Homo sapiens: one gene and its partner. The protein of the gene in region 2 interacts with the protein of the main gene of each other region in a biochemical or structural test. Each region holds a gene or a part of one and is shown on either strand. Other genes may lie near its edges. The genes, in order: DAPK1 and PCP4.

Region 1 (3,823 bases), on a different chromosome or scaffold from region 2:
GAATTTCATAAAATTGAAGTGGTCCACCTTGCCCATAATAACCCTTCAGCTCCCATCATCTCCTTGTTTCTCTATTCTTCCTTTCTTTTCCCAGGGCACTAGGATAAAGACATGTCCAGGCAGACACCTCTTACTGGGTCCTACTATGAAGCAGTTCCCTGAAACCAGAGGCAAACCAGGAAGGAAGTACAAAGGGGTCCAGGCTCTTTCCATGGTGTACTTACCGAAACAATCTGGCTTCGTATTTCTTGCAGATGATTTCGAAGTACCTTCATGTCCTTTGACCCAGAAGCCCCAGCATCCAGAACAAACAGCTTATTTGAAATGTGAAGATCATTTCCAAACCTAAGGGAAGAGCAGCAGCCTCCTCAGCAGTGAGTCAATGTCCCCAGGCCTTTTAATGGAGGGGCCAGGCTCCTACTGGCTCAAGAGGCTGGTAGGAGGGAAGGAAAGTTCTGGTGTCCTTGCAAAGGCCCCTCCCCATCCCTGCTGTTGGTGGGCTCTGCCTCATCACAGTGGGTGCAGAGACTTGGGGAAACTGGCATATAGTCTGAGTCATAGGAGCGGGACCTTCAGGTTTGCATGAAGCAGCAGGAGCACAGCATGGAAAGATGTCAGCTTCTCCCGAGGCAGGAAAGGTGAGGCCTAATGCTCGCACCTTACAAGTGAGGACAAGAGATACTGTGGAAAGTGGAGGGACTAAGAATAGAGGTGTGAATGCAAAAGCTACATCACTGACCTAAAAATATTAATAGAAGCCCCATTTTTATATCTGGCAACAGATATAGTGTCTCAAGACAATAGATAAATGTCTCAAGTTGATAATGCAAGATCAGAGATACTAGCATATTATAGAAAGCTGCAGGTTCAAACTGTTTTGATAGACTCTGAGTAAAAACATATATTTTACATCATAATCCTGTACATACCCATACTCATCAGTGAAACAAACGTTTTACAAAATAATACTTGACATCTGATCTATCCTATCCTGTCCTGTCCTTTCCTGTCCTATCCTATCCCATTCCATTCCATCCCATTTTAAAAAGAATTGGCCACGACTTCCTAAATGAATTTTAAGACTCACTAGTAGGTTGCAACTTATATTGTAAGACATACTGATTAGTGTTTCTGAACACTGAATACTGAGTACTGAAATCTAAACAGCTAAAAGAAGTCACCTCCGGGCAGTGTTGCTGGGAGGTAGAAAGAAGGGGGTTGCTTTCATCACGTGCTCTTCATTTGTATTTGATTTACTATGTGGATTCATTGTTTTAATAAAAATGAAAAATAAAGGTTGTGCATCCCTAATCCAGAAATCTGAAATGTTCCAAAATCCAAAAACCTTTTGGGCAAAGACAAGACATGCAAAGGAAATGGTTATTAGAGCATTTCAGATTTAGAATTTTTGAACTAGGATGTTCAACTGCTATGTATATGTACATATATTAAAATCCAAACAAATAAGAAATCAGAAACACTTCTAAAGCCGATCATTTCCAATAAGGGATACAAGACCTGTACAAGAAAAGAGTTGACCAAGAAAGAAAGACCTTTAAAACCTTTCTCTGGTTCATGAGACTTCCTTTGTACTTTTCACACCTCTGCTTCAGTTCTCAGGGAGAGGAGGCTACCCGTGAGCTGGAGACTAAGTGGCTGCCCCTCACCTGTTCCTAATCTCTTTCAGCAACGATGTGTCTTTGTCATATCCAAACTCGCCTCCAGCCGGTCGAGGAACATTCATGATGTCAGCGTGGGTGGCCACCAGGACAACTTGGAGTGGGTTCTTCAGCTTGCCACCGAAGGCTGGGGGCAGAGAGGGAACTGCTTCAGGGGGTGGGTCCTCCTACCTGGCTGCCTCTCCTGCCCAGGTGAGGGCGGTGTGTTGGCCTCATGCCCAGGCCGACTCTCCAGGTACAAGTGCAACATGCCACAGAGATGAAGGCCCCACGCCTGCTGTGCACTGTGACCCTAGAAGGCCCCAGCATGGCCAACGACAGGATAAGCCTATCTCCTAGGCCACAAGGAAAATTGCTCAAAGTGGACCAGAATGACTAAAGGCAGTTTCTCAAGTCTCCAAATAGCCCCTACTTACAAGGAGAGGGAAAATTTAACCTGTGACAAAAGGGATGCCGCTTACAAGACCAAAGAGAGACGCCTGAGTGCAGCAACACCACAGAGATGGGTCAGAGGTAAATGACCTGCAAGTCACACAAAGAGCCTCCCACTTCGGGGAGTGTTTAAAACAAAGGAAAAAAAGGACAAAGAAAGAGGCAAAACTGGCAGTACCCAGAGGGGCATTAAGCCCAACTCCTTGTATTATATGCTTTTCCGGAAAGAAAAAAAATTGACTGCTGAGTATTGCATTTCACCAGGGAAGGCTGCTTCTCTTGTTGTGGGCAAAGACCAAAGGAAGTTTATTTCATGTTATCCTCTCCTCTAGGAATAAAGTTAAGATAACACATTCAGTCAACATGCTCCCTTTCTTCATTTCTCTCTCTTTTTTTTTGAGACAGGGTCTCACTGTGTCACCCAGGCTAAGTGCAGTGGCACGATCTTGGCTCACTGCAGCCACAGCCTCCCAGGTTCAAGCAATCCTCCTGCCTCAGCCCCTGAAGTAGCTGGGACTACAGGCACATGCCACCACACCTGGCTAAGTTTTTGTATGTTTTGTAGAGATGAGGTTTTGCCATGTGGGCCAGGCTGGTCTTGAACTCCTGAGCTCAAGGCATCTGCCCACCTTGGCTTCCCACAGTGCTAGGATTACAGCCGTGAACCACTGCACCCGGCCTCTTTCTTTGTTTCTTAGTGGAATTACAGGATGAAGAACTGCTCATTCTGCTGACTAATTCTGTACCCTTTAGGTAAAGGTGCAGTAGCTATCCAAGCAGGGATTCCATTTTGCACCCAACATACAATGACCATGGCTCTCAAGTGTAGAAAAAAAGTGAGAAATGCCTCTCAAAGGATTGTTCAAAGTGGGCCTTTGAGGCAGGAATATGCAATCATGAAACAAAAACAGCCTGCAGAATACCACGAACACTTGAGCCTCATGAAGCTTCTCAGAGTGGAAGTCTCCCAGCAGGAAGGAGAAAGGAAGTTGGCTCAGCTGTTAGCCACAAACGGTGGGATCTGCTCATGGCCTGGTGCAAGGCCAGCAGCAGCAGTGGCAGGAGCAGGGCAGAAGCCTGGAAGGAGGAGGCGATTCCTGGCCAACCACAGGTAGGACATCACTGGCCTGCAGGGACTTAGCTCACCTATGGGTTCTTCAACTGGGACAAGGGACTTCAGGAAACTGAGCCAGAAAATCACTTGGTTCAGCTGGATCTCATAGGGCTCTTCTAGACTAAAGACAACAACATGGATTGACGTGGGATCATTTGCAGCAAAATAGTCATAACAGCAGAAATACACAGGATTTCCAGAGAACTCCCACACGCTGAAATCGCCAACTCCTACAGAAAAAGAAAAATGATAACAATCGTGAAACACCACTAACCAAATTTCAATCATAAATTCTCTTAGCGTTCCACGGATTCGAAGTAGGCATAGTGATACTTATGGCATTCTTCTGTATGTGTATACATCTTGTTATGACTTGGGTATGGTTTGTTCCCCACTAAAACTCATATTGAAATCACTCAGTGAGGTGATGTGGGAGGTGAGGCCTGGTGGGAGGTGTTTGGGTCCTAAGTGCAAATCCCTCCCAAATGGCTTGGTGCTGGTGGGAAGGAGTGAGTGAGTGAGTGAGTGTGTTCTTGCTCTTGTGAGAGTGGATTAGTTCTCATGGGAATGGATTAGGTCCTGAGAACGTGGATTGATG
Region 2 (3,823 bases):
TCAAACCTATAAATGCCACATTCATGTTGGGGCCATTCTACATGAACAATTTAGCATAAGCCACACATTCCAGGCATGGGTCTGCTTGTATATTGTTTATGCCTCACAAAGAGCTCTGAATTTATGCTTCAGAATCTCACTGAATTTACTGCTCATTCCATTTCTGGAAGGGAAACACTTGGCCCATATTTATGACATTGCCAGTAGAAAAATCAATCACCCACTAAATGCCATTATTTTATATTTTACTCTTAACCTGCCATTTTATAAATGAAAGGAAGACAAATTAGACTCATAAAGCAGGAAGGTAATCATCCACAAATTGAACATTTAAGGGCAAGGAAGCAAAAGCTGTGAACTGTTCCAACCATTCAAATAAGGCAATTTTCCTCACAAAGGAGCTAGAATAGAGAGCAGGGGAGTCCCTCTCTTCAAGGTTTCTGCCCTCCATTTTAGGACAGTCTTGGACTTGGATGAGACTAAAACGTCTCCAGCCATACACGAGTCAGACCTCTTCCTCGTAGTTCAAAAGACAACTTTTGAATGTTAAATATTATTTACGACGGTTTGATAGCAAAATGGGATCCAGATTGGCTTGAGATCACGCTATTCCTGGTATAACAATCCAAGTCTGTGGTATAGTGGCATGACAAAAGACACAGTCATCTGTTCCCGTAGCACCACATCTGTGCTTTGGTCAATAATCGAATGAAGTAATGGTTATTTTAATTTTATATGACCTCTGAGAAAAGGACTCCAGAAGTTAACAAGACCCATTAACATGTGTCTTAATCAAATAAGAGTAAAAATATAACAAGGAAACACAGAAACACAAGAGGGAGAAATAATATAATTTCTTCCTTTTTTTTCAAGATCTTTTTTTTTTTTCTAAAAAACAATACAAGCATCTGTTCATCAGGTGGTTAAGTTCTAGTATTTTAAAAAAAAACCTAGTTAAAAGGTTACACCTGCTTTAAAATTTATGATTCTTATGTACAGTAGCTCCCCCTTATCTTCAGATGCCCGGTGAATGGCTGAAAGTGTGGGTGGTACCGAATCCTACACATGCTATGCTTTTTCCATCCGATAATACCTGAAAGTGCTGCTAAGTGGCTACGGGCAGGTAGTGTAGACAGTGTGGATACGCTGGGCAGATGAATGATTCATGTTCTTAGACAGCAAGCGGTTTCATAACGCTACTCAGTAGAGTGTGCAATTTGCAACTTATGAATTGTTTATTTCTGGGATTTTCCATTGAATATTTTTGGACTGTGGTTAGCAGCAGGTAACTCAAACCTCAGAAAGTGAAACCAAGGAAGGTTAAGGGGGAACTACTGTGTGCAATTTCTTTATTAAATAATAGCCACTGTTTCGTTAGGAGTTGTTAGAGAAATATCACTTTTTTTTTTCTTGTACCCAGCAAAATGACTAATTGTATTTAGGGTTTTCTTTTTCAAATTGTAAATTTTCTCACAGTTTTTTTTTTGTTATGCAGAGAAATCTCTGATGCAATGAATGGGTCAAATTTTGAGCTGAGTGTGGCTGTGTGACAGCATCCTGGGTGCTGGTCTCCTCATCTCTGAGGGGTGACAGCATACACACAGACACTGGTGCTGCCACAAGTCTGCCCATGTCCAAGACGGGCGATGGTGTGGAGCCTTCCTTTACAGATCATAACTCTGCATCTTCCAGAGAGTTTTAGGTGGAAATAGCAACAAGCAAAACTTCAAACCATTATGCCATAGTGAGATCTTCTCCTTAAAACAATAAGGGTGACTTGACGTGATTTTATCCTCTTGCCTTCTATGACTTTCCACAATTGTGGTTGCTCTAACAACAACTGTCTGTTTTAGCATATCAATGTTTTGGGAACTATCTTTTCAATCTTCCTGCAGATCCATAACAGAACTATGGAATAGTGTCCACAATGACTAAGGATATCAATACTCCCAAGTTTTTGATAGTGTACCTTAATAGGGAAAAAATTTGACCATGTATACACAACAAATTTTTATTTATTTTACAATTATGTATACATGCGAATATGCCAATATAGTAAGAGTTAATCATTAAAGGAAGGGTAAGGAAATCTGTAATTCCAATAGACTTTTTGGTAACTGTACTTCTTTTTGAGTCTAATTTGATGGCTGAGGTTTTTAAGCTTGTATTGGTGCCCATGAAGACATCCTAAGAAAAGAAGGTTTAGTTAGTGCTTCTATCGTTTCCTTGGTGTTTGTGCTGATGGTGTTAGTATTATTTTCAGTCTATGATTTAATGCAGAATTTTTCAATTAAATCTGAATATATATTTAATTGAAATATATATTAAATATATAGTAAATAATATATATATGATTTACTATTTTAACCACTTTTAAGTGTACAGTTCAGCGGTATTAATTACATTTACACTGTCGTGAAACGGGTCCACAGAACTTGTTCATCTTTCAAAGCCAAGACTCTGCACCCATTCAACAACCACTCTCCATTACCCCGCCCCTATCCTCTGGCAAACCCATTCTATTTCTTACCTCTATCAGTTTGACTACTTTTGGTACCTCCTGTGCGTGGAATCATACAGTATTTGTCTTTTTGTGACTGGCTTATTTTACTTAGCATAATGTCTTCAAGGTTCATCTATGTTGTGGCCTGTGACTATATAGGACATTTTAAAAGCCACTTACCTACTGTGGGAAGATTAGTTTAGTTAAAGGTAGATTGTATAATCTGTAAATCCTCTTAATGGAACATAAGGAACTGCAAGGTATCACATGATGATATTCTGAGAGCAAGTCAACAGGCAGTGTGTCTGGGACAATCTCCCATTGTGGGACTCCTACTCTTTCCTACCCACCAAGTGATGATGTCATTATCAATCCAGATATTAGCTATGAATGAAACCTAATTTTTAAATTGATCTTAGATCCTACACAAATATAAATAGAAATTCTAAAGTCTTCTTTACCATGAGTGTTTGTGGCAGTGAAGCACCTTACAACCCCAGAGGTGCCGTTGACACTGTGGTCTGTGCCAACAGCACTGCCTGGAGTTGTGCTGTGAACAACCTATGCCACTGAACATGGTGGCTCTGCCCTTCCTTGAGTTGATGTCAGCCTGCTTAAGGACGGTTGACCTTGAGAAAGGCTGTCGTTTTTATAGTTCCACTTAGAATTCAGGGAATCAGAGAAGGGCATCGTTGTCATTTCATTCAAAGTGGTCATTTTAAAATAGGGGACTGAGTGTCCAACGATGAATCTTGTGCAGAATCACAGAGCTTCTTCAGAGAAAACCTAAGTTTCCTTTCCACATTTTCCATGCTATTACATTTCTCATTTTCTGGATACAACCTAATTTCTTTTAAACCTGTCCAAATTCCACTTAGGGTTTGCACAAGTAATTTATTAAATTAAAATTGTCCTGAATATTTTTATTAGCCTTGAGTAAAAAAAGAACAGCCACAGAAATCTTGACAAAGCCATTGTTTTGTTCATCAGGTCTTCCACTCTATTTCTAGGGATTCCAGCTTCCACCCTGACACCCCCAGCCTCCCATCCCGTCACACACAGAGAAGCTGAGAAATGTTAATAATGCTTCCCTGTGGAATGTTTCATTAAGACCCTTGTTGGGCATGGTGGCTCACTCCTGTAATCCCAGCACTTTGGGAGACCCAGGTGGGAGGATTGGTTAAGCCCAGGAGTTAGAGACCAGCCTGGGCAACATGGCGAAACCCCGTCTCTACCAAAAATTAAAAAAAAAAAAAAAATTAGCCGGGTGTGGTGGTGCATTCCTGTAGTCCCAGCTACTCAGGAGGCTGAGATGGGTGG

The links.
Region 1: the proteins of PCP4 (region 2) and DAPK1 form a complex in vitro, tested with the Homo sapiens proteins (one large-scale study listed by BioGRID and IntAct).

What each region holds. Positions count from the first base shown.
Region 1 is NC_000009.12:87,696,639-87,700,461, reverse strand, and holds part of DAPK1 (death-associated protein kinase 1), read right to left. Parts: intron 3,456-3,823; coding exon 3,258-3,455; intron 1,807-3,257; coding exon 1,668-1,806; intron 346-1,667; coding exon 225-345; intron 1-224. UniProt on the Homo sapiens protein: Calcium/calmodulin-dependent serine/threonine kinase involved in multiple cellular signaling pathways that trigger cell survival, apoptosis, and autophagy.
Region 2 is NC_000021.9:39,873,786-39,877,608, forward strand, and holds part of PCP4 (calmodulin regulator protein PCP4), read left to right. Parts: intron 1-3,823. UniProt on the Homo sapiens protein: Functions as a modulator of calcium-binding by calmodulin. Thereby, regulates calmodulin activity and the different processes it controls.